Linked DNA regions of Homo sapiens. The protein of the gene in region 1 interacts with the protein of each later gene in a pairwise test. Each region holds a gene or a part of one and is shown on either strand. Other genes may lie near its edges.

What was found.
Region 2: the proteins of CARD9 (region 1) and CYSRT1 interact in binary tests that used the Homo sapiens proteins (3 or more experiments, as listed by UniProt).
Region 3: the proteins of CARD9 (region 1) and TRIM29 interact in binary tests that used the Homo sapiens proteins (3 or more experiments, as listed by UniProt).
Region 4: the proteins of CARD9 (region 1) and DUSP13B interact in binary tests that used the Homo sapiens proteins (3 or more experiments, as listed by UniProt).

Annotation. Positions count from the first base shown.
Region 1 is NC_000009.12:136,370,670-136,377,575, forward strand, and holds the start of CARD9 (caspase recruitment domain-containing protein 9), read right to left. Parts: upstream 3,001-6,906; 5' UTR 2,863-3,000; intron 1,426-2,862; 5' UTR 1,410-1,425; coding exon 1,226-1,409; intron 793-1,225; coding exon 655-792; intron 477-654; coding exon 172-476; intron 33-171; coding exon 1-32. Other genes in the region: SNAPC4 (snRNA-activating protein complex subunit 4), read right to left, coding at 5,687-5,812, 6,874-6,906. UniProt on the Homo sapiens protein: Adapter protein that plays a key role in innate immune response against fungi by forming signaling complexes downstream of C-type lectin receptors.
Region 2 is NC_000009.12:137,220,860-137,226,861, reverse strand, and holds CYSRT1 (cysteine-rich tail protein 1), read right to left. Parts: upstream 1,689-6,002; 5' UTR 1,629-1,688; intron 1,249-1,628; 5' UTR 1,241-1,248; coding exon 806-1,240; 3' UTR 547-805; downstream 1-546. Other genes in the region: RNF208 (RING finger protein 208), read left to right, coding at 5,650-6,002. UniProt on the Homo sapiens protein: Component of the stratum corneum that may contribute to epidermal antimicrobial host defenses.
Region 3 is NC_000011.10:120,110,761-120,114,134, forward strand, and holds the end of TRIM29 (tripartite motif-containing protein 29), read right to left. Parts: intron 1,717-3,374; coding exon 1,654-1,716; 3' UTR 526-1,653; downstream 1-525.
Region 4 is NC_000010.11:75,096,476-75,104,137, forward strand, and holds the start of DUSP13B (dual specificity protein phosphatase 13B), read right to left. Parts: upstream 3,038-7,662; 5' UTR 2,963-3,037; coding exon 2,556-2,962; intron 1,411-2,555; coding exon 1,237-1,410; intron 1-1,236. UniProt on the Homo sapiens protein: Dual specificity phosphatase that dephosphorylates MAPK8/JNK and MAPK14/p38, but not MAPK1/ERK2, in vitro. Exhibits intrinsic phosphatase activity towards both phospho-seryl/threonyl and -tyrosyl residues, with similar specific activities in vitro.

The DNA.
Region 1 (6,906 bases):
GCCTTCATGAGGCTGTGCTTGAGCTGGTCAATCTGCAGAAGGTCCAGTGAGCCTGGCTGTCCCCTCCAGGCGGTGACCGCAGACCCGTGGGGCCACCCCCGACCGCCCCGGCCTGCAGACCCCGCCAGGCCAGGCGAGGGTGGCCTGGTTTCCCGGGGGCAGCGGGCGCACCTCCAGCTGCAGGTCACGGTTCCGCATGAGCGCGGCGCCCTTCTCCTCACTCTGGTGCGCCAGGCGCATGGCCAGGTCGTAGTTCTCCTCCTTGCAGCGCTTGAGCTCGCGGCTGCCGGCCTCGCACTCCTCCTTGAGCCTCTGCACACGCTCCTGGTGCTTGCGCAGCAGGCTGTCCTTCACCCGCAGCTCCTTGATGAAGTCATCTTTGGAGCTCAGCAGCGCGGTCAGGTCCTGCACCTTCTTCTGCAGCTTCATGACCTCAGTCATCAGCAGCTGAGTCAGGCCTGACTCCCCGGACGCGTCTGTGGGCCAGGCCAGTGTCAGATGGTGCCGTGTTCCCCGGTGGCCCAGCTCCATCACGCCCTGCGCTGTGGCAGGAGCTCAGGGCTCCTAGGGATGGGGGCCAGGCAGAGGACCCAACACCACTGCCCGCTCCCCGCCAGCGCCTCCCCTGTCGGCCCCGCCTCCCCCGTCACTCACCGATGATCATGGAGAAGACGCGGGCCGGCTCCTTGCCTGTGACCTTCTTGTACAGCTGCGGGTAGTAGAGCTCCAGGCTCTCGAGGAAGGCCACGTAGCCCTTGTGGCCGGTCCGCTGCAGGATGTCCAGGAGCACACCTGCGGGCCAGAGAGGCCTAACTGGGGGCGGGGCACAGGCGAGGCAGAGGGCTGGGGTGGGTGGGCCTGGGGGCAGGGACAGGTGGAGGCTGGCATGCAGATGAGGTGTGCCGTGGTCTGGGTCTTGGATGAGGTACCCTGCGGGTCTTGGTACTAGGCTGGGGACCAAGTGCTGCCCACCCGCCCCTTGGCTGTCTCAGGAGCCCCCGCTGCGGTGGGAGCCCCGCTGCCCCTCTTGGCAGCACCAAGCCGGCAGGAGAGGCTGGGGGACGGGCCACGTGCCAGGGTTGAGGTTGGGCCTCAGTCAGAGGCCAGGGGCAAAGCCAGGCGGGGCTCTCCTGGGGTTGAGGGTCAGGGTGGCAGAGCGTGCAGCCACCTCCGAGCTGACTCTGTGGTTGGGTTTGGGGCCTGGGGCCCGCGGGGCAACACTGACCCACTTTCCGTTTGCGGATGACCAGGTTGGGGTCGCTGAGCACCTGCTCCTCATCATCGGGGTTCAGGACCTTGCACTGCCGCAGGTAAGGTGTGATGCGTGAGGGGTCGATGACCGAGGTGAGCGTCACCCGGAAGCCCTCCAGGACGCTCCAGCACTCGTCATCGTTCTCGTAGTCCGACATGGCCTCAGCAGGCAGGCTGGGGAGTGTGGGGCAGTGCTGAGAGCGATGCCGGCTCCTGCCCCCACCCGGGCCCAGCTCCCACTCCTTCTCAGACGCTGGGCCAGGGCTCTCGTCAGGGCATCGAGGGGGATCAGCCCAGGGGCATCCAGGAGAGGTGCCCAGCTCCATGTCCCATCCCCACGCTGGATCCCCCAGGGAGGCAGCAGAGACACAGTGACCCCGCTCCCCACCAGACCAGCCGAGGGCCCCTCCGCAGCCTTTCCCAGCCCTTGCTCCTGCCCGTTGGCATCCATGTCACCCAGATACGCAGCGGGGGAGGCACAGATGGGGTCTGAGAGAGGAACTCCCCCTACAGCATGACCCCCTCTGGCCTCTGCCTCCTGGACACTCCCATCACGCCCTGGAGCCTGCAAGGTTAGCCACCTCCATGGCTGGAATGGGCAGAGGAGCTGAGGGCAACTGCCTGGCACTATGGCCAGCCCAAGCTGGGTGAGAGCAGGTTGGCCAGTGGCCCTCCCACCAGCACAGCAGCTGGGGGAGCCGGTTCTTGTGGGACTTCCTCATTCCCCTGACCGACGCCTGCTCACATCCCTGGCTGTGCCCTCCCTCCTCCACGGCCGGCTGCTGATGATGCAAGAGTGGCCACCCAGCCCTGCTGCAGCTGCGGGGTCGCTGCACTGGCCGGGAAGAGCTGCCCACAGGAGCGTGTCTCTGTCACCCCCTGCCGGCCCCGCAACCCTGGGAGGGGCTGTCAGTGTTGCCCTTGGCTGGCCAGGAGTGCTGCTGCGGTGTTTTCTCCAGGTTGAGGTGCCGGGCACCAGTGAATCCCTGGACTCTTCTCCTGCCCCAGATGAGGCCCGGCCCCCATCCCAGTGGCTGCAACAGAACTACCCATGTTGGGACCAGCCACTGCTGTCCCTTTCTGCCAGCATGGTGGGGGCCTCAGCCGCTGAAAGCCACTCCCTCTGAGACTGGGACTGCGGCAAGGCTGGGAGCAGCCACGTGGTCCTCAGACAGCCTCCAGCCCCGCTGGGAAACGCTGGTTTCCAGCCCAGAGGAGCTGGGTCACTGCTCCTGGAGACATAGTTGCCCCAGGCTTGGTCTTTTGAGGCATTTCTCAACTTCCCGCTGCACTTTGTCACCCCATTCAGGACAGTTTTGACAGACAAGGGACTGAATAAAAACACTGGCCACACGGTAGACAGTCCTGGGAACACTGGGCCCCTTTCCTGCTTCCCCAGCTTGAAATGCAGGGTCCCATCTGCCACCGTAATTCCACTGAAATGAACACATCTCCGCCCAGGGGCCGTGAAAGGGACGGGGCCGCATGGCGGAGGCTGCCTGGCTGCCTGTGGGAAGCCTCAGGCTGCTCTGGGGGATCAGTGCCAGGATCCTGAACTAGGCCAACGCCAACCTTCCTGGCCACCTTTCAGAAAGCACCAGACCCACCCACCTGAGGGTCTTCCAGGAGCCACCTGCACTGCAGACACACCAGGAGCCTGGGCCGCGGAGCCTCTGGGAGATGCTGCCCGGGGCTGCAGGGAGGGAGGAGCACGCCGGACGCCTGTGCACTTCCTGATGGGTTCTGCTTAACTCCACAGTCCCGCCAGTCCTCCCACAGGGGGACAGTCCCTGGTGACCTGCTTTCTGATTCGCCCAGCCCAGGAGGCCCCAAGAGGCAGACGGAAGTGGAAGTCCGCTGCCCTCCAGAGGAAAGCTGCTCCCAGCCCTCCCAGCCTGGCCGGGGGCTGGGGGTCCTGGGGATGCCCCAGAGGCCCAGCCCTGGCACCTGGCAAGTAGAAGAGACAGCAGAGACCCCCAGGGGGCTGGACAAGGCCAGCCCGCACCCAGCCACTTTGACCTGGTCACAGGCTTCTGGAGACTTCTTCAGTAAGGCATGCTTTGCTCTGTGCGAACACCCTCGCCCTCGCCAGCATCTCAGGACAGCGGGGCAGGGCATGTGCAGGGGGGCACACAGCCACACGGCATGGCCAGCACACGCCTTGGTCACAGAAGGGCTGCAGCCCACCTTATGGAGCCCAGGAGGCCACAGCAGCCTGCCAGGGGCCATGGCATCGGCCACCACCCAGCTGCACACGGGGGAGAAACGTCCCTTCCAGAAGTGTCGTTATCCTCGTTATCCCCATCATGAGGCATCCCTGCTCTCCACCAGGATGCATGTGAGGACTGAGGCCACTCTCGGGGTCCCCCAAACCAGCTTCAGAAGAGCCGGTGACAGCAGGGCACAGCTCGGCCCCCATCCAGGGACAACGGACAGCAGAGTCTGCCCTGAACTGTGCACTTCAGCGTGTGGGCTGCCAGAGCCTCATCCCTGCAGGCTTGGGAACCCCCAGGCCCCGCCTCACCCGGTAAAGCTGGTTGAACTGAGTTGCCACCCAACAGGTTCGAGAAGGGGCCGCCAGGCTGGAAGGCAAGGAAGCTGGTGTGGAGCTTGCCTAACCGTTCTCAGCCTCCAGCCCTCAGGCCTCTGTGCGGACAACGTCTGACATCACACATTAAGGAGCGGACAGTTAGGGGTCCTCCTGGGCTCTCGGGAATGCCACATTCCAGGGGGCCGTGCCCCTGCTGGACCCCTCACCATCAACATGAGCGAGTGTGCAGGCCGGGGCCATCCTGGGCCCTGCCAGGGAGCGAACCGGAGCTGGCACCAGGCCCTCATGACCCAGTGTTTCCCCAGCGTTTAAAACGCGGACCTTAGTGACTTCCCTGTGGTGTGTGTCCTTAGGAGTGAACACACATACCATGTTCTCTAACCATATCGGAAGCTAAAAATCGGTAACAGATATCGGCAAAATCTCTAAATATTTGGAAATTAAATAATATACCGCTAAATAACCCACAGATCAGAGTGGCCCCCAGACTAGGCACCAGACTAGAGAACCAGGCACAGCAACACATACTCAGGAGTGAGGTCGGCCATGGGACCGTCCCGTCTGCCAGGTGCCCAGGGCTGAGGCCCCACAGTGGCTCCAGTGAAGGATCGAAGCCCAGATAGCCAAGGGCCTGGGGGCGCTGCTGCCACAGAGACAAAGGAAAGGGAGCTAGGGGACAGACGGAGAAGATGGGGGCTAGTCTTATGCCAATAAAGGCCCATGCAAAAGGAACAGTGGAGGGTGGGGGCTGCCGCCGTGTCGGGGTAGCCAGGTCATCTGTTCCAGGGAACCCCCTGGGTCAGCCAGGGCAGCGCGAGGGCTGGCAGCCATCTGGGGAGGGTGCCGGCTAGCCTGAAGGACAAAGCCACAGATGCTTTCCAGGAAATGGGCGAAAGAAAGCCTGCTTCTCTGACAGGAGGGCAGCCGGGGTACGGGAGGCCTTCCAGGACCCCAGCTCTGGGCCCCCAGCACCCTGCTTGTTCCCGAACTGCCTGCACTAGGGTGGCTCAGCCACTAGGCAGCAGCCTGACCCCAGCCAGGTGGGGGGTCCCTGTACACTGCCCGGTACCTCAGGACAACAAAACCACAACAGCCTGTGTCCAGCTCCACAATTAAAAACAGAACTTTATTCCTCCAAGTGTTCAGGTGTGCACTTGGGGAACAGCCATGCTCCATGCCACACAGTCAGTCGGCAGGCCCGCCTCTGTTCACTGCGGACCTGGTCAGTCAGCGGCCAGCAGATACCTGGCCTCTGGCTGCCTCTCTTGCAGGCTGGGGGTGGGCTGTCTCTCGTCAGCAGGGCCACGGGCTTCTGAGAAAGTGCTTGTCCTGGAACACAGGAACACCAGGTGGGGGGTGCCCTTGACCCCAGCCAGACCCCAAGCAGGGCTGGGACAGACAAACAGGAACCAAGACCACCCCAGCGCCGGCCACGCCCAGTCTGCTTGGTAAACCTGACCCACATGCGCCAAGGGCCAGGCCAGGGCACCAGGGCTCCAGCAGTGAAGAGCCAGCCTGGTGGCTGCGGTTGGGGATGGTGATCGTTTTACAAGCTGGGAGACGACGCAGCAATGCACGGGAACAGGGCACCACCAGAGCACAGCGGCCAGGGAGGAGCCCAGACCCCAAAGGCAGGGAATGAGCCTATGGTCAGGGGCACAGTGGTGCCAAGGCCCGAGGCATGGGTGGCCAGCAGGAAGGATGTGGGTTAAATGCTTCTCCCCCTGGAGGGCCTCCATGACCCTGGACCTGCCCACCTAACCCAGCACACCTGCTGTGAGCGCCAAAGAGCCGAGCAGAGGCCAAGGCCCCCTGCCATCTGGACACCACTCTGTCCCCTGGGTTGTAGGGCAGTGGCCTCCCCACTCAGGACTCACCTGCTGCTCACACCAGCCGCCTCCGCTTCCGGGTGTGCCTGGCATGCCGGGTTCTGAGCACGTCCAGGTCGTCAGGGTCATTAGAAGTATCCAGGCAGGAGGAAGCAGAGCATTTACCAGAGTCTGGGGCTCCCTGAAAGAAAATCCAGGCAGTGGGGACAAGAGTGACACCCCCGAGCCATGATGGACGGGGAAGGGACGGGAGTGAGGAGGGGCCCTGTGGGTGAGTGTCCCACTTGGGACAGGGCACCCTCAGCTCAGGCGGGAGCTGCTCCAGGCACTCCTGGGGCCACACGTGACTGTGCACTCCCTCCCTCGGGGGCTCTGACCCCATCCAAGCCATCCCTCTGGTGGGCCTCCCACTCCCCCATGGGACAGCCATCACACCCAGGCAGGGCAGGAGGCTGTACATGGATGGGGCACAGAGGGCCTCTTCCCCTGGCTGGCCGGGGTCCTCCCCAACTCTTGGACATTGCTTCCTCCCACACTTCAGCCCAGGGACTTGCGAGACACAACCCTGGGGAGAGATGGAAGGCCCTCTGCCACACTCCCTATGACAGGCCCACAGGTCCAGCTGAGGCTGCCTGCTTCTGGTGGTTTCTCAGGGAGGCCAGCCTCCCAGCTGCTGCAAGTGGGCACCCTGGCACCAGGGGAGGAGGCCTCTCTGGGGGCCCCAGCTCCACATGCTTTCCAGGGTTCCAAACATGGTTTCACCTACAGAGATTGGAAAACTCTCCCCAAGGACACTCAGAGAGGTGACAGCAGAGAGGGACCTTTGGGACCCCAGAAATCCAGAGACAAACACAGCCACCACCCTCCACTGTGCCCATGGCCCACCCTGGGAGCACACGTGTGTGTGGCGTGTGCGGCTCAGAGCCGGGTCAGCGTCCATCCCAGAGCTTCTCGCTCAGACAAGGCCACCTGGCTGGGCAGCATCAGGATGGCCGGAGGCTCCTGCACGAGAATGAGGCCTCTCTTCTCCCCTTTTCCACACTGCCCCAAAGGGAGGCCACTTCTGCAGAATCTACACGCAACTGGGCAGGCCAGGAACCAGCTTCCTCCTCCTAAGACACCCAGCAGCCAGCCTTCCTGCCCGCAACTTCCACCAGCCCCCACCCCACTGCTCCAGGCAGGCGAGGGCACCCCAGGGACCGCCGCCTGCCATGGGGAAGTGGGGCTGGGCGCCCACCCTACCTGAATGGGGCATGTGGCTGTCGTGCAGCCCGG
Region 2 (6,002 bases), 850 kb from region 1:
CAGGACAGGAGGTGTGCAGGAATTAGATATTTCCTGGGAAACTAGAAAAACATCCCAGCTGAGGTTGGGAGGTGAATCACCAGTGGGCAGGGCGTGGTCCTGGCTGTCTGGGCTCTCCTGTCCCAACCTTCCACTCCCTGAAACCTGCAGCACCTGCTGCACCCACCACCCTCTTGTCGACACGCTCCTTCTCTTGGAGGCCTTTCCTGGGGTCCCCCCAGTTCCATGCGCTGTATCCTCCTGCTGTCCGACCCATGGACTGACCCCAGCTCACAGTCTCAGTCTCGGCCCCAGGGAGCGCAGGTCAGCTCAAATCCAGACCTGGCTCAGCTAGGGCTGTGGACACGCTGCAAGCCCTCGTGCAGTCTCTGGGCAGACCCGGGACTTGCAGGCCAGGGGAAAGTGTGGACGTCATGAGGCAGTGGCATCCCTGTCCTTGCAGTGTCCACAGTGACTGTGTGTGTGTGTTCTCGGGTCCACATAAAGGGGCAGATGCCCTGTGTCCAGCTACAACCCCCTCCCAAAGGAGCCTGCAGCAAAGAAGAATTGCTGGGAGGAAGATCACCCTGCTTTATTGCCTGGGCCTTAAGGTAATCAGGGGTGTCCCTCTCCAGCCAGGACCTGGGATTCCGTTTCAGGAGCTCGGGCTGAACGGCCACCTTCCTGGTGGGTCTGAGCCCCAGTGCCTGGTGTGAAGGGGCAGACGCCCATGACAACAGCCACCCCGCATGTCCCGGCATGTCCCGGCACTGTGTGAGCCACATTTGCTGAAGTCTGGGTCCTGGCCCTGGCAGGGTGGGCTGGGCTAGGAGATGACACAGCAGCAGCAGCTGTGGCAGCGGCAGAAGGGGGGGCAGTGGCAGCAGTGGCAGCAGGGGCAGCAGCAGCAGTGGTGGGCGATGTCATCCCCGCGCCCCGCGGGCGGAGGGCCAGCGTAGGTCAGTCCGGCCTGGCGCTGACTGCTGCTGTAGGGGTTGCCAGGCTGCTGCCAGGCCTGCTGGTTCTGGATGGGGGCAGCCCCCTGGTTACCCTTGGCGCCCTTGGGCCCTGGGACCTCGGTCGGCTGCAAGAGGTGGGTTGGCTCTGGGGCACAGGGCCCCACTGGCAGGGGCTGCATCTCCGAGGATGAGGAACAGGTGGAAGCCACCTCTAACTGCTGCCCCAGGTCAGGCCGCAGGTGAGCCCGGGGGATGCTGATGTGGGCATATGGGTTCTTGACGACCATCTCTTGGGGGTCCATGGTCCAGCCTGCAGGGGTGGGCAGAGAAGACAGACATGAACTCAGTGGAGTGGGATGGCTGCCCACGAGCCTGCGGCCCAGGAAAGCCCCCACCAGGAGCAGCGTGCCTCGTCCAAGCTCAGCATCCCCAAGGCATCAGTGCCGGGGTGCCATCACCTCCAAATGTGTGTGCAAGGCTAGTGTCATGGGTGTGAGCCAAGTGTGAGCAAGCAGCAAGGGCCGGTGTCTCCCAGCTGCCACCCCTGCCAGGGATCCTCCCCCTCCCCTGGTGGCATTGGTCCTGGGATGGAGCTGGGAATGGGGTCGGGGAGGCTGAGAGATGGGAGAGAAGGGGGCTGACCCTGCAGTGCCCCTGAGTTCAGGGCAGTCCCGGCGGCCAAGGGCTTACCTGTGGTGGCAACACGGCAGTCTGTCCTCTCGGTCTTCTGAGCTCTAGGTCCCAGTGCCTGAGTTGAGCGACTGGCAGCCGCCTTTTCCCTCCTTGGGAGGGGCGGGGCCATGGGGCGGGGCTCAGAGATGGGGTTCCCAAGATCCCAAGAGGCCCCAGCAACTGGAGCACGACAGCTGGCCCAGCCCTCGTCCTCAGGTGGGTGGCAGCCCAGGCCTGGGCTCTGAGGGGCACTGCCAAACCAGTGACTCAGCCCCTCACATCCGGGGCATGGCCTGGGCCCTAAAGGGCATCTGCAGCTTGCCTGAGAGGAGGGCAGGAGGTGAGCCTGAGGTCACGGCTCTGGAAAGGAAGTGGGGTGAGGCCCTCAGATTCCCGGGCCTGCAGTCCCCAGCCATTGCTCACACACCTCAAAGCCCCGGCGAGGCAGGGCTTCTAAGCCTCTGAGCCTCTTCTTAGCAGAGACCAAGATGCTTGAGAGCCATTGGCTCTTGGAGGCTTTCTGCTTCTTTTCTGAGATGGAGTCTTGCTCTGTTGCCCAGGCTGGAGTGCAGCTGCGCGATCTCGGCTCACTGCAACCTCTGCCTCCCGGGTTCAAGCGATTCTCCTGCTTCAGCCTCCCGAGTAGCTGGGATTACAGGCAACCACCACCACGCCTGGCTAATTTTTTGTATTTTTAGTAGAAACAGGGTTTCACCATGTTGGCCAGACTGGTCTCCAACTCCTGACCTCAGGTGATCCGCCTGCCTTGGCCTCCCAAAATGCTGGGATTACAGGCGTGAGCCACCGCGCCCGGCCGATTTTTGAGACAGGGTCTCACTCTGCCATCCAGGCTGGGGTGCAGTGGCATGATCTGGCTCACTGCGGCCTCAACCTCCTGGGCTCTAGTGATCCTCCCACCTCAGCCTCTTGAGTAGCTGGAAGGACTACAGGTGCACCACCACGCCGGCTAATTCTTTATAGAGATGTAGGTCTCACTATGTTGCCTAGGCTCATCTCAAACTCCTGGACTGAAGTGATCCGCCTGCCTCCACCTCCCAAAGTGCTGGATTCCAGGCGTGAGCCAGCGTGCCCAGTGGCTTTTCTGCTTTTTTCACTGATAAAAAATGTTTGATTTGCACGTTTTGTCACAGGTCTTATCTTACAATCAGTGACACGGGCTTTAGACACTACTGACATTTTTAGCTCATTTCTCAAACTGCAGTTACCCTCTGGCTGGCGGGCGTGGGGGCCACACGCGCCCCCCCAGCGTCCCCACCTTGGGCCCCCCGCCTCCAGCCGAACCCAGGCTCCATCTGCACCGGCGCAGGCAGGGGTGCAGCGGGCACTGGCGAGTGCCGCGGGGACGACCCACGGCAGTGGGGCCCTTGGGGCCCAGGGGAGCACCAGGAAGGGCGGGTTCCAGTCAGACGTGGCCTGTGTAGGGCCAGTCAGACCGGTCGGGACATGAGTTCAGGCAACCCGGCCCCGATTTGGGGAGAACTGGGTGCTCCTGGGGACCCAAAACTTGAGAGGCCGGCGACGGAAGTCCACTGCGCAGGCGCCGGAAGTCCCGCCCACCTCCCTGCCTGCCACTTGAGTGGCGCCTATGGCGCATGCGCAAACAAGGCAGGAACCGGCCGTGGAAATATTATTGCCCAGAAGCCCACGCGCTCCGGGGTTTCCCGAAAGACCCGGTTCGGATGTGACCAATACTCGGCTTGGGGTTCTCCAGCTCTGAATGGCGGGTCTGAAAAGGCCTGGCCTGGGGGGCGGGGCCTCGTGGCGGGGGCGGGATCTCATCCCCTACGGGGTGGGGTCTCGCTGAGGGGGCGGGGCCTGCGGCCTGGTGCTTCCTCGGGCGCACGCCGGGTCGGTGAGCAGAGTCTGCGGCGGAGCTGGGCTCCCGGCCCTCCCCAGGCCCAGGCTGCCTCAGTTGCCCCACCATCTTGCCAGGGCCCCGTAAGGACCCCTCCAGCAGCGCCCCTGTCACCCGCACACCTCTCCCTATTGCTCTTCTGAGTGACACTCGCCCGAGGCCCCACAGAGGGGCCAAGCCAGACCCTATGCGCAGGGCTGCTCCTCCAGCCTGTTTTGCCCACGCGAGCTCCCGCACCAGCGGCACCGTCCCCTCTGGGCTCAGCACTCTGCAGGCCCTGGGGCTCTGCCTAGAGCAGGTGCGGTCTGGCCAGTCCAGCGGAGAGAGGAGCTGAAGGAGGCCAGGATGTCCAGGGCCAGGTGCGGGGCCAGAGCTGGTCACAGCGTGGCAGCGGAGGCCCTCGAAGCCCTGGTCCCCTGCCTCACGGTGACCAGCAAGCCCGAGGGCTCCACAGGCAGAAGGCGGACCCAGGAGGGCAGGGAAGCCCCGGGTGAGGAAGCGGAGAGGCCCGGGCCTGCGCGCTGGAGTGCCAGGGGCCACCCTGTCCGGGCAGGTGCGGTCCTCAGGGCCGCCTCCACCCCGCACTGGGCTGCCAGCCTGTCCTTCGCGCACTCCCACCGGACCCGTCCGTCCACCGGCCTCGGCCTTCTGATCCGCTCCGCCCGCCCCGCTCTTGCCCCTTAGAGTCACAGCGATCTATCTGAGCTACGGCACCGGGCACAGGCGGAGCTGGAGGACTCGGGGCCTTCCCATGGGGCGGGGGGCCGGGGACGGGGGAAGGCACCGGTGGGCCCTGGAACCAGCTCCCCTGGGATCCTCCGCGCAGGTCCCCTCCCTCTCACTCCAGAGTCCTGAGGCCTCCTACTGTGAGGGAGGAGAACAGCCGGATTCTCCTCCTGAATCTGGGGGGGCGGGGGCTTGACCAGGACCCAGGATCAGCCTGGAGAGAACTGGGGGCGACGCGGGGGTCCTGCCCCCCACGCAGTCCGCGGGCGAGAGCGACGCCGGGAGCGGACCGAGGGGCGGCCGGGAGGCTGGCCCCGCCCCGCGGACCCCGCGCGGGTCCCCAGACGGGGGGTGGCGCTGCGGGCGCGGGCGGGCGCCGCGCGCACTGCGGTCCCCGCGCCTCCGCCGCAGAGCGCGCCACGCTCCGCACGCACCTGCCGCCGTCGCCGCCGTGCCGAAACCCGCGCCCCGCGCCCCACGCCCGCGCCCGCGCCCCTCGGTGCCGCCCGGGCCCCGCCATCGCCTGAGGTCGCTGCGGCCGCCGCCGGAGCCGCCGGAGCCCCCCGAGCTGCCGGGCCGAGGCGCGGGCGCCGCGTCCGGGCCTGCCTTTGAGACAACCTCTGCGGCGGCGGCGCGCGGCCGGGACGCCAGGCTGGGGCAGGTGAGCGCAGGGGGCGGGGGCCGGGGGCGGACTCAGCGCCCCTCCCCACGCGACGGGGGTCGGCCCTCGGGAAGGTGCGTCTGGCCTTGGAGGCGGGGACCGGGGAGGGGGTTGGGTTCTGAGGCCCGCGGAGGTCGGGATCCCACGGCTGAGGTCAGGGTCAGAGGTCGGGCGCCCGGTCCTTTGTGCAGGGCGAGGGCTAGGGTGGGGGTGGCCGGGGCACTGCCCTCATGCCGTCTCTCACCTGCAGCTCAGGCCTGGCCCAGGCCTCGCCTCTGCTCCTGCCGCGGAGCCTGCCGCCCCGGTCCTCCTGCAGCCAGCGCTTCGGCTAGCTGCCTTCCCTGGGCGCCCTGTCCTGGAGCCATGGGGCCCACCCAGCCCCTGCCTGCCCCGATGTCCCGGCCCGCGGCCTGCTGACCTCGGCTGCAGGGGGAGCCCCCCCCGCGCCCCCTCGCCAGCCTCAGCAGCCAGAGACCCTGGGTGAGACCCTGGGCCAGACCCCCAGCCCAGGGCAGCCTCCCACCCCTCCCTGCCCCCGCCTGCCTCCCCCTCCCCCACCCCTTCCTCCTCCTCCCAGGACTGGACCAGAGAAGCCACTGTGGCCACTGGGGGGGGCCCTGCACCCCCAACTCTCGCCGGCTGTCCCTAGGAGTCCACGGGCCGTCCGGGGCCCCCCCCAGGCCTGGCGGGACCAGGATGCTGCCCTGTCACCTGCCCCCCAGCCCCACACAACGCCCCCACCCACCCGAACATCCAGTCTGACTGGAGACAGCCGGATGCCCTCTGACCCCGGGCCCGAGGCGGGCAGTGGCTGGCCGGGCCTCCTCATGTCCTGCCTGAAGGGTCCCCATGTCATCCTCAAGATGGAGGCCATGAAGATTGTCCACCCTGAAAAGTTCCCTGAGCTACCGGCTGCCCCCTGCTTCCCGCCTGCTCCCCGGCCCACCCCAACTCTGGCACCCAAGCGTGCCTGGCCCTCAGACACAGAGATCATTGTCAACCAGGCCTGTGGGGGGGACATGCCTGCCTTGGAAGGGGCACCCCATACCCCGCCACTGCCACGGCGGCCCCGTAAGGGAAGCTCGGAGCTGGGCTTTCCCCGCGTGGCCCCAGAGGATGAGGTCATTGT
Region 3 (3,374 bases), on another chromosome or scaffold:
TCCTCCGTCCCCCAAGCCCAGGATGATGCTGTCTTCAGGAGCCTGACCCTCCTGCCAGCCTCAAAGGGGAGCTCTCCTTCCCAGAAGGCCCTCTGTGCACTGAGAAGGCCCTCAGGTCTGAAGCCTCCAGTGGACTTCCACTCCAGCCTGCGTCTGAGCACCAGAGTGCTTGGCTCCCAGCCACTTCTGGGCCCTTCTCCCCCTGGGAACTCTAGGGTGGGCCGGCCAGAAGGTCTGAGCATGGCAGAAGGTATTGAGCATATCCCCAGGCCCACACCCCACTGTCATTCTCCCTGTGTTCATTGTTAGCCAAGGCGTGCCTCCCTGAGGCCCAGGTTCCTGCACTGCACCCCCTGTGTCCCAGACAGGGTGAGGGAGGTCAAGGGAGTTTCAAAGGAGCCACGTTTCTGAGAGGAGAGCAGGAAGATGACCGTGCCTTCATCAGAGGGAAAAAGTGCATTCAGAAGAACTGCAGCCTGTTCCTCTGGGGACCCTCAGGGAAATGGTCATTCAATACAAGAGAAGTGACAGACCAATGGTTTATTCCAAAGGGGAAAGCCCAAGCTGGATGTCTCCCTCCCCAACCCCTGCAAGCTGGCCCATCCTTCCAGAGCCCCCATAGGCCTGGGGCTGTTGAGACGGGAGATGTCCCCACTGTGCTGCTCCTGGTTTTGTCTCCTCTCCAATCCTTGAGCACCCTGATATGCAACATGGGGGGTAATCAGAAGGAGGAGGCAGCCTCTGATGGGGCAACGGCTGAGGGTGGGGGCAGTGTGTAAGGCACCTTTTGCGGTCAGCCCAGCCACACTCCATCGCCAGAGAGAATGCCAAAGTGTAGACTGAATGAAATTCTGTAGGCAAATGGTAAATGGTAGCTGGGCCAGTAGCTATTTGCATGGGTGGATTATATCATGTTAAGGGAATTCTTTATCTCAGCAGAGGGAACAGAGGAATATCTTGGCTAAGGTCATCCTGCCAGTCAGGAGAAGCCACCCTCCAGGGACCACAGACTCAAAGTGGCTGTGGTGGAGACCCACCGCCTGGGTAGGGTGATGTCAAGACACTGAGAGGTTTCCATCTGCAGTGGCCAAGGGCTGCAGGTTCTGCCATGCTGGGCATTGATAGGTAGGACGAGAGAGAGCACGTAGGGCCAGTCCTCTGGGAAGCAGGAGGTGGGCCATGTGAATGGGAGATGGGTGGCTGTGCTGTCCAGGCATCTGCTGACAACATTGGGGGATAGGGCCTTGGAGAGAAACGTCTATAGGCCTGGAGACAGCAGGGCGTGGGCGGGAGAGGCAGGCTGATACCATGCGGGTACTCACTGCTAGCCCCCAGATCCAGCCCGAGAGGAGGAGGCTGGCGGGTTAGGGCAGGCCCCAACCTATCTCACCCCTGTGATGGGTTGGCCTCTGAGCACAGGAATGATGGTGACCATCTGAGGTCACAAGGCAGGAAAGGAGTCTGAATGGAGTGTGGCCAGTGGGGAAGTCGGAGAGGCCGGAACTGCCCCCAAGAGGCTGGCAGAGGGCTGCAGAGGGCAGGTGCAGGACCAGGCTCCCTCCCACCCAGACAAGCACAGTAGCTTAGAAGGCAAGAGCAGCAGGGTCAGGAGGAAGAGCAGGGGTGTGGCGCCTCGTTCCTTCCGCCAGGAGCTCATGGGGCTTCGTTGGACCCAATCCCGTTGCCTTTGTTGACGTAGAATGGCCGGTAGTGAGACTGTGGGGGAAACAAGAGTGGTCAGCGAGGCCAGACGACAGATGAGCCTGCTAGCTAGACCCACCCTACCCTAACCTGCCTCAGGAGGCAGCAGTGATCCAAGACCCGACAATTCTAGGGGCCTTTTTGGCCTGATCTGCAAGATTTACCTACCCTGTGATCAGGGGCTGGTCCCTAATGTCAGGATCTCCAGATTGGAATCCTAATTGGAGTCCATTCCCATAGTTAGTGGGTGAGCTTGAACCTCAGCCCCCGCATTACACTGGTCGAAATTTCTCTCCACAGCTCAAGGAGGTTCCTCCAGCGCCACCACAGCTACTATTTATATAGCACTTTCTACTCCACAGAACTTCACAGCACTGTGTCGAGGGCTGTATGTGGATGCACTCATTTAATTTTTACAACCACCCAATTAAATAGATTACTATTATCATATTCAATTTATAGTTGAGCAAACCAAGGCACAGAGAGGCTAGGCAACTTGCCCAAGGTCACTCAGCTGGTAAGCAAGGAGCCAGAATCCAAGCCCCAGCAGGCTGCCTCCAAAACCCACACCCCCAGCTGCCAGTTCTCGGCATCACTTCTCTTATGGTGAGGGCTTCCAGGATTTTCTTTGCCTCTCTCTGCATAAATTTCCCTTACAGAAAGGGTGCAGAGAGGGTAAAGAACTGCCCCAGTCCAACACGGTCCCAGGCTCCCCACAGCCCTTTGCCTCTCTCGTCCTGTTCCTCTTCCCCCAGCCATTGGTACAGGGAGCATCTCTGGAGAGAGAGCCCAGTGACAGCTCTCCCAGCCTTCTCCATGTATTGTATCTCCCAGTAATTTCATGAAATCAGCATGCCCCACCCTGCCCAGATAACTTCATCAGGGCCCTGAGGAGGCAGCCCTCCAGGATGGAGTGGAAGAGCACAGCTTAGCTGCTGCTCACCCACGCAAGCACCATCAGCCCCCGGGGGTCTCAGGAAGAGGATTTGTCCCTGAGCTGGGTCAGAGACTGAGCCCACTCCCATGCCCTGCAGATCCCAATACAGGAGACATCATTTGCCCCTCACACACACACCTCAAGGGTACACTGCCTTTGGCCCTGTCTCTCAGGGAACTGACACCTCCTGGTCAGCTCCTTGCCTTTGTGTGGTCCACAGCAGGACTTGAGGGATGCTCAGACCTTGCTTAAACCACCTATTAAACAAAGGAAGAAACTGAGACCCAGGGAGGGGTAAGAACAGCTACTTACTGGCAAAGCAGAGCCTGGACCAGGTCTCCTGACCCCCAGGGGCCAGCCTGGACCCCAAGCAATTCATAGGGCAAAGTGAACAGATTTGGAAATGGCTGAAGCCTTTCTTTGAGGAAGATTGGGTCAATAATATGGGTTGCAGGTCAATGAATGGCATTGTCTGGTTAAAAGCCTGGAGTGGTAGGTGGGCATCAGGGCAAAATGCTACCTTCACCCTCCCATCCCCTCCCTGGCTTGAGGTCACAGCACATACAGCAGGTGGAAGAGCTGCAAAATCATCCTAATTATGGATGGGAAAACTGAGGCACAAAGGAATCATTTTTCCTCATGCAAAGTCACACAGCAAGTCAATGAGACAGCTGGGGCCAGCCCCCAGGGAAATTGATTCCCAGCTCAGCTTCTCTGCAGCCCAGCGCCTGTCTCC
Region 4 (7,662 bases), on another chromosome or scaffold:
CTGAGGTGGGAGAATCACCTGAGCCTGGGAGGTTGAGGCTGCAGTGAGTGGAGATTGCACTACTATACTCCAGCCTGGGTGGCACAGTGAGACCCCGCCTCAAAAAAAAAAAAAAAAAGAAAAATTAGCTAGGTGTGGTTGTGCAAACCTGTATTCCCAGCTACTTGAGAGGCTGAGGTGGGAGAATTGCTGAGCCTAGGAATTTGAGGTTGCAGTGAATGATGATAATCCCTGCATTCCAGCCTAGGCAACAGAGAGAGACCTTGTCTCTAAATAAATAAATAAAAATTTTAAAATGAAATATTACTAGGATCACTGTTCATAATAGTCAAAAAGTGGAAACAATTCAAATGTCCATATTCAGTAAAATGGATAAACTGTGGCATAATCATATGATGACTCCAGCAGTGAAAACATGAATGAACTTCAGGTACACATAACAATGTGGGTGACTCACAAATTTGAGCAAATGATCCCAGGCACAAAACACACACAACATGATTCCACTCATATCATTTTAAACAACAGGTGAAACTAACTACACTGTTTAGATATATAGGTGGTAAAACTTTACAGAAAATAATTAATTCAACAGATAGTGATTAACCACAGAGAATAGAAAAGTTATAATGAGAAGGATTCAGTAGGGGCTTCTGGGAGACAAGTAATATCCTTTTTCTTCACTGGGTGATGAAGCTGTTCATACGTGCTCTGTGCACATTTCCTTTTTCCTTTTTTTTTTCTTTCTTTGAGACAGAGTTTCGCTCTTATTGTCCAGGCTGGAGTGCAGTGGCACGATCTCGGCTCACTGCAACCTCTGCCTCCTGGATTCAAGTGATTCTCCTGCCTCAGCCTCCTGAGTAGCTGTGATTGCAGGCGTCCACCACCACACCTGGCTAATTTTTTGTATTTTTAGTAGAGATGAGGTTTCACCATGTTGGCCAGGCTGGTCTCGAACTTCTGACCTCAAGTGATCCACCTGTCTTGGCCTCCCAAAGTGCTGGGATTACAGGCGTGAGCCACCGCACCCGGCCCTGTGCACTTTTCTTATGTGCATTCTAGTTCCACAGTTAAAAGCAGTAATAATATAAAAGGAAAGAAACATAGGGAAAGAGACGGTGGGAGGCAAGCGTGCCACCTCTGCCCTAGAGGGCTCTGAGAGAGGCTCATGCCCCCATTCCCGTGTGAACCTCACACCCTTCCGCCATCCCCACTCCTAACGTGGGTCTTACTCACGCATCTCCCAGGAAGAGGCTGGGCCAGACCTCATCGATATGGTTCAGTGTGGCAGCCTGACGGACCCACAGCAAGCGCTGCAGCGAAGCCAATGTGGGCGGCTGGTAGGGAGATGCCTGGACTGCCCCATGGATCTTGGGCCTCCGGAGGTCCTGCTTCTGCAGTGAGTCCATCCTGGAACAGAGTGGACACCGCAGTGGCTGGAGGCAGGCTCCCAGAGGGTGGATCCAGCTGATGGGGAAGCCCATGGTGCAGTGCCTAGGTGCCACGGGGATGCTGCAGGAAGGGCTTCATCTATTTCACATGAGGTATTAACAAGCTCAGCTGGGGCTGAGGCCTAGAACCCTTCCCCAGGGAACAAGGGAATCAAGCCTTTGTCACTGCTATGGAGCTGGGCAGACCTCTCTCCTGCCCTCTGCTGAGCTGCAGATGTATGAAGCTTTGGCCAAGGGGCCCTTGGAGTTCCCTGTTTGTGGCACTAGTCAGTGCAGATCTCATCCCTAAATCAGCTTGGACTTTGTAGGGATGAAAGCCCCAGATGGCTGTGGCTCTCAGGGCACCCAGGAAGCCCCCACCAACCTAAGCAGCTCATCTCAAGCCCCCTCACCTGCTACTTCCAGTACTCATCCTCAGACCCCCGTCCCCTCCCACTTTCAGGGGCTTGGAGATCAGAGCCTATCTCCAGGTAAGAGGCCAGGACTGTGAACTGGTATTTGTTAGCAACTCCGCATGGAATGAGCTAATGCCTCTTATAAGCCTGATGCCTCTGGCTGGGCACGGTGGCTCACACTTGTAATCCCAGCACTTTGGGAGGCTGAGGCAGGCAGATCAACTGAGGTCAGGAGTTCGAGACCAGCCTGGCCAATGAGGCAAAATCCTGTCTCTACCAAAAATACAAAAATTAGCCAGGTGTGGTGGTCCACTCCTGTAGTCCCAGCTACTAGGGAGGCTGAGGCAGGAGAACCTTTTGAACCTGTGAGGCAGAGGTTGCAGTGAGCTGAGGTCACACCACTGCACTCCAGCCTGGGCAACAGAGCGAGAGTCCATCTCAACAACAACAAAAAGCCTGATGTCTCACTCGTGGGATATCTGTTCCTATTTTACCCAGGAGGAAGCTGAAGCTCAGAATGTTTTAAAAGTGATGCCCAAAGCCATACGGCTCATGAGTAGCAAGGCTGGGGTTTTAGTCCATCCCCAAGCCTTTCAGTTACCATCTTTGGGGCCTCCAGAGAGTGGTCACTAACCCATCTGCTTCCTCAAGGGAGCCTGGTACTGCTGAGCCACACACCTGCCTACAGGCCCTGGGTTTTCCTCCTTACCCCCACGACTCAGGCCAGCACTGGATGTCAGGCCCCACCCGGGTCAGGTAGCTTGTTTCAGGCATCTGCTGGCTGAAGGAGTCAGGGACCCTGCGGAGCTGGATTTTCAGCGGCACCAGAATATGGGCCTGGTGCCGTGTTGGAGAGGGGGTCCTGTCTTTGCTAACTGCCCCTGATCCCCTGGACCAGTGACTAGGGAAGGTGCATACTGGGAAGAACATCTTTTCCCTTTGGTAGGCAGTGCCAGGACCAGAAAAAGAAACAGGCACCCAGGAGGCTGCCGGCTTGGCCAGGCTCACCCAGTGGGAGGCTGTCGGGCAAGGCGGAAGTGAAGACCAAGCTGTCCTCCTCATCCCCCACTGTGACCTCTCCAGGTGGCTGAGTGGCCTGCCACCTACCTGGGGCATGGCCTGGGGCCGGGAATGGGGGAGTGGGTGCAGGGGCAGGACTCTGCCTGAGCGGAACAGGGCTGGGCAGGTTCTGCCCAGAACACAAACACTGTGAAGCGGCTAGAATTCCAGGTGCTGGCTGGGGCGCCCATGGGGGGTGGGGCCTGAGAGCCGACTGAGGCCTTGTGGACTGCAGTGGGCCCTCCGGTCCCTCTAAACCCCCAGGCCTCCTCTCTGCTTGGTATCTGTTTGGGATTGAAGACCGTTGGTTCCATAAACCTCCATGAAGATGGGAGTCTACCTGAAGAGGTGGGAAGAGAACTTCTGAGGCAGGGAGGAGAGCCTGGCTCCCCCAGCACTCTGCCATAACTCATTCTGTGGCCACGAGCAAGTCTTTGCTCCCATCTGGACCACAGTTTATCTTCCCATGCTAGGGATGCTGGACTTAATTTTCAGGATGCTCTGGGGGTCTGACCCGAGAATGAGAGAGGAGTGTCTGGATATGCGGTCACTGCAGGGCAGAGGGCAGTGTAGTGTGGTGGAGTTGGGGAAGCCCCCAGGACCCAGAGGAGTCCAACAGCCACACTGGTCTGGAGCCATCAGGTGGGGCTGCACCACCCCAGGCAGGAGATGGGGCTTTGGGAAGTGGGACAGGCTCCGGGCTCAGGCCTGCGGAGCTTGGCATGGGGTGAGGCTGCCCCCTGGTGGCCAATGGGTGTGTCACAGCCCAGCCTTGCCAGGGAGCAGGCAGCCAGGCTCCACCCCCAGGAGGCTCCAGAGGGGTCAAGGATTTGGGGGCTGGTAGGCCACAGTGCATGCCTCTGCCTCCGAGGGGACCTAGGCCCAGGTCTGAAGAACGGGGCTCTCCCCTGGACTTAGCGCTATGCCTGGTCAGGCTCCACCTAATGCCTTGCTCCCGATGCTCAGGGTGTTGCCCCACCTGTCCACTCTAACCCACTGGGACCCAGCCCATCCCATCAGTCAGAGTCAGGCCCGGCCACCCCCCCAGGGACTCGTCCTTTAAGCCCCAGTCCCTCCCAAGGAGGGGAAGTCGGTGGTTGTGGCAGCTCCGCCGGTTTCTGACACCTGAGACTTGGTCTTCGGAGGGCCCTGCCTGACACTACATTCCATGTCTCCTTGTCCCCAGCTGGGTGAAGCACAGGCCCAACGTCCAGCAGGGCCAGGGCCCGGCCGAGCTCCCCTCCCACTCCCTGCAGTCTTCCTTCTCTCCCTGATCCCGTGCTCCTCCTCGCCCCCTTCCTGCCTCCCCCGCTCAGCAGAGCAGCTGCCTCTGTAGGCAGGGCTTTTCCTGGCTGCTCCTGTGCTGCTGCTGTTTGCAAGTCCATGCACTTCTTTTCTGTGTTTGCATCTCTCCTCCCTGGGTCACTCCCCCGTTTGCCTCTGTCTCCCATCCTCCCCCAGGAAGCTCATGTGCCTTTGCAGCCTCCCATGACGCTGCTCTGTGTGCCCAAGACATCGGGCAGAGGCACAGGCTTCCTTGGGGCAGGGGGCAGCTGTTTGCCATCCACCTCTCAGCTGCAGTTTCAGATAGTCCCCTGGACTTTCTTCCTGCCCATCCTTTCTGACTCCACTCCAGGGAGGCCAGACAGAAGTGTGGCCACAGGCCATGTGGGGCTGGAGATCTCAGGGCAGGACCAGTGAGGAGTGTGGGGAGAAGGCCTGCAGAAGGGTGGCGTGTGGCTGCCAGTGGGGAACAGCTGTGGGTCTCTGTGCTCAGCCTGAGGGTCTTGGGGAGGGCAGACCTGGGTAGAAATCTCAGGTCTGGTACTTGCAGCTATGTGGTCTTGTCTTCACCAAGCCAGTTTCTTCAGTGGGGCTGCTGTGAGAATTCCATGTAATAATTAATGTAAAGCACCTCCCACAGGGTCTGTCTTATGGTAGATGCCCAATAAATGGCACGTCTTACTATTATTATCACTACTATAATTACTCTTACCCTTTCCAGCCCCAGCCATATCCTATGTGGAGGGTAACTTCCCTACGGGACAGTGAGATTTCTTCTCTATCTCTGTATTTCTTGATATTTCTTTCTCTGTCCAGCAATAATTGTTATATTTAGCACTCATCAAGGATGTACTATGTGCCAGACAGAGCTAGGTGCTCACATTTTCTCATTGAATCCTCACAGTGCCTTTATGGAGCAGGTAATATTATCATCCCCATTTTACAGATGAGGAAACCGAGACTCAGAGAGGTTAAGCAACATACCCAGAGTCACATAGCCAATTGATGTGGGAGTCAGGATTCAAACCCAGGTCTCTCTGACTCTACTATACCTTGTCTGCGCCTTCATCTCTGACCCAGTCGGTTCTCTACCCAACCCAAACCCCACCCCTCCCCACACAGGCACAAGTGTCCTGGCCCTCATTACCCAGCATGCTCAGGGACCACATCCTACCCCCCCCAAATTAGGAGCACTCACCCACCTGTGGGAGTATCTGGCCCAGGCTGTGCACTTCTCTGACGGGCAGTTCGTGCTGCTGGCTTTCAGCCGCCTGTCTCCGCACACTTGATGCTGTTTCTATTTTTTGATTTGAGTTTAATTATAAAGCATGCTGTCTACTCCCCTCTTCCAGCCTCCCCTGCCACTCCCAACTTGTCCACTGGTTCCATGGCATGGCCAGTGCCAAGCACAGTCAGGCACCTTTCCCTCCAGGCCCAGGCCTCTGTCCCAGCACTGCTAAGAATCAAGGCAGCTCAGCCCAGGTCTGACTGTGGCATATTGTGTACATGTATGTTGATAGTGGGAGAAGGGGCCGGGCGCGGTGGCTGAAGCCTATAATCCCAGCACTTTGGGAAACCGAGGAGGGTGGGTCATGAGGTCAGGAGATCGAGACCATCCTGGCTAACAGGCTAGCCGGGCGTGGTGGTGGATGCCTGTAGTCCCAGCTACTCAGGAGGCTGAGGCAGGAGAATGGCGTGAACCCGGGAGGCAGAGCTTGCAGTGAGCCGAGATCGCGCCACTGCACTCCAGCCTGGGCGACAGGGCGAGACTCCGTCTCAAAAAGAAAAAAAGAAAAAACAAAAAGAAAAAAAGAGATAGTGGGAGAAGGAAGATCAAATAAACCATTTTAAAAGGTCCCTTGGCCGGATGCAGTGGCTAATGCCTATAATCCCGACACTTTGGGAGGCTGAGGTGGGAGGATTGCTTGAGCCCAGGGGTTCAAGACCAGTCTAGGCAATATAGCCAGACCCTGTCTCTACTAAAAATACAAAAAATTAGTGAGTTGGGCTGGTCGCGGTGGCTCATGCCTGTAATCCTAGCACTTTGGGAGGCCGAGGTGGGCGGATCACCTGAGGTCGGGAGTTCGAGACCAGCCTGACTAACATGGAGAAAACCTGCCTCTACTAAAAATACAAAATTAGCTGGGCGTGGTGGCGCATGCCTGTAATCCCAGCTACTCGGGAGCCTGAGGCAGGAGAATCATTTGAACCCGGGAGGTGGGGGTTGTAGTGAGCTGAGATCACGCCATTGCACTCCAGCCTTGGCAACAAGAACGAAACTCCGTCTCCAAAAAAAACATTAGCTGGTTGTGGTGGCACACACTTATAGTCCCTCCTACTCGGGAAGCTGAGGTGGGAGAATCACCTGAGCCCAGGAAGTCAAGGCTGCAGTGAGCCCTAATCCTTGACCATGCCATTGCACTCCAGCCTAAGCAACTGGAGTGAGACCCTCTCCCTTGGCCTTCAAGGGTATTATAGAAGAAGGGCAGGAAGTTCAAGTTGGAAGGATGTTCTGTGGAGGAGGACAGTGAAGAGGCTAGCCAAAAATCACATGTAAACTGGTGGCATTGCCAACAGCAGGACCCAGGTCCGGGGCCCTCAGTTAGGGGCCAAGGCCGATGGGACAGGTCCAGGATAAAGACCTAGAAGACTCAGGCTGAGGGAAGCAGCACAGGCCCACACACAGACACAGGTGTAGAGCAGGTCTTCAGACAGCCCTGGGCTGCAGGCAGAAGCAGTGTGTCCAGGGCCACTCCCACCCTCTGCCAAGCTCCTCCCCCAACCCAAAAGGCAGGGACACCCAGGCCCCACTGTCCCCTGAGGCCAGAGAGATGGTCTTTAAGGTCTCTCCCCATGCTAACTGTGGTCAGCTAGGACCTTCAATTGGGCCTACTAGAAATCTTCTCTGTCATCCACAGACCTTTGTCATACACACATACCTTGATACTACTCCCCGCTTGCACTCCCAGATGGTGGGAACAGGGCACACCCATGCCTGCAGCCATACCTGCACTGGGTCTCTGAGGTCTGAGCTCCAGGGAGCTAAGGCTCAGCCCCTCCTGGGGCTCTCTGAGCCCTGAGGGGAGCTGCTGGAGACAGCTGTGGCCAACAGCTATCACAAATATCTGGAACCCCCTTCCTCTCTCCTCCCCTCCCCACTTTCCCAGGGAACTTGGGGTCCCTGGCCAAGAAGCCTGAGGGCTTGGCTGAGAGGGGAGCCCACTCCCACCTGTGGAGACTGAAGACAGTGGCTGAGAGGGGGTGTAGGCGCCAGGAGGAGCCAGATGGAGTAGCAGGCTCTAGGGCCGACCCCACGCTGGGCTTCCACCATCTTCTGTGTGTCCGCCTGGGCCAGAGCCTCCAGCAGCACCAGCAGGATCAGTGCCAGGGTGGCAAAGTGGCAGAGCCCCATGGCAGGGAGTAAGGACCAGCTCTGGAAGAGAGATGAGCTCTGTGTTACAGGCAGGTGAACC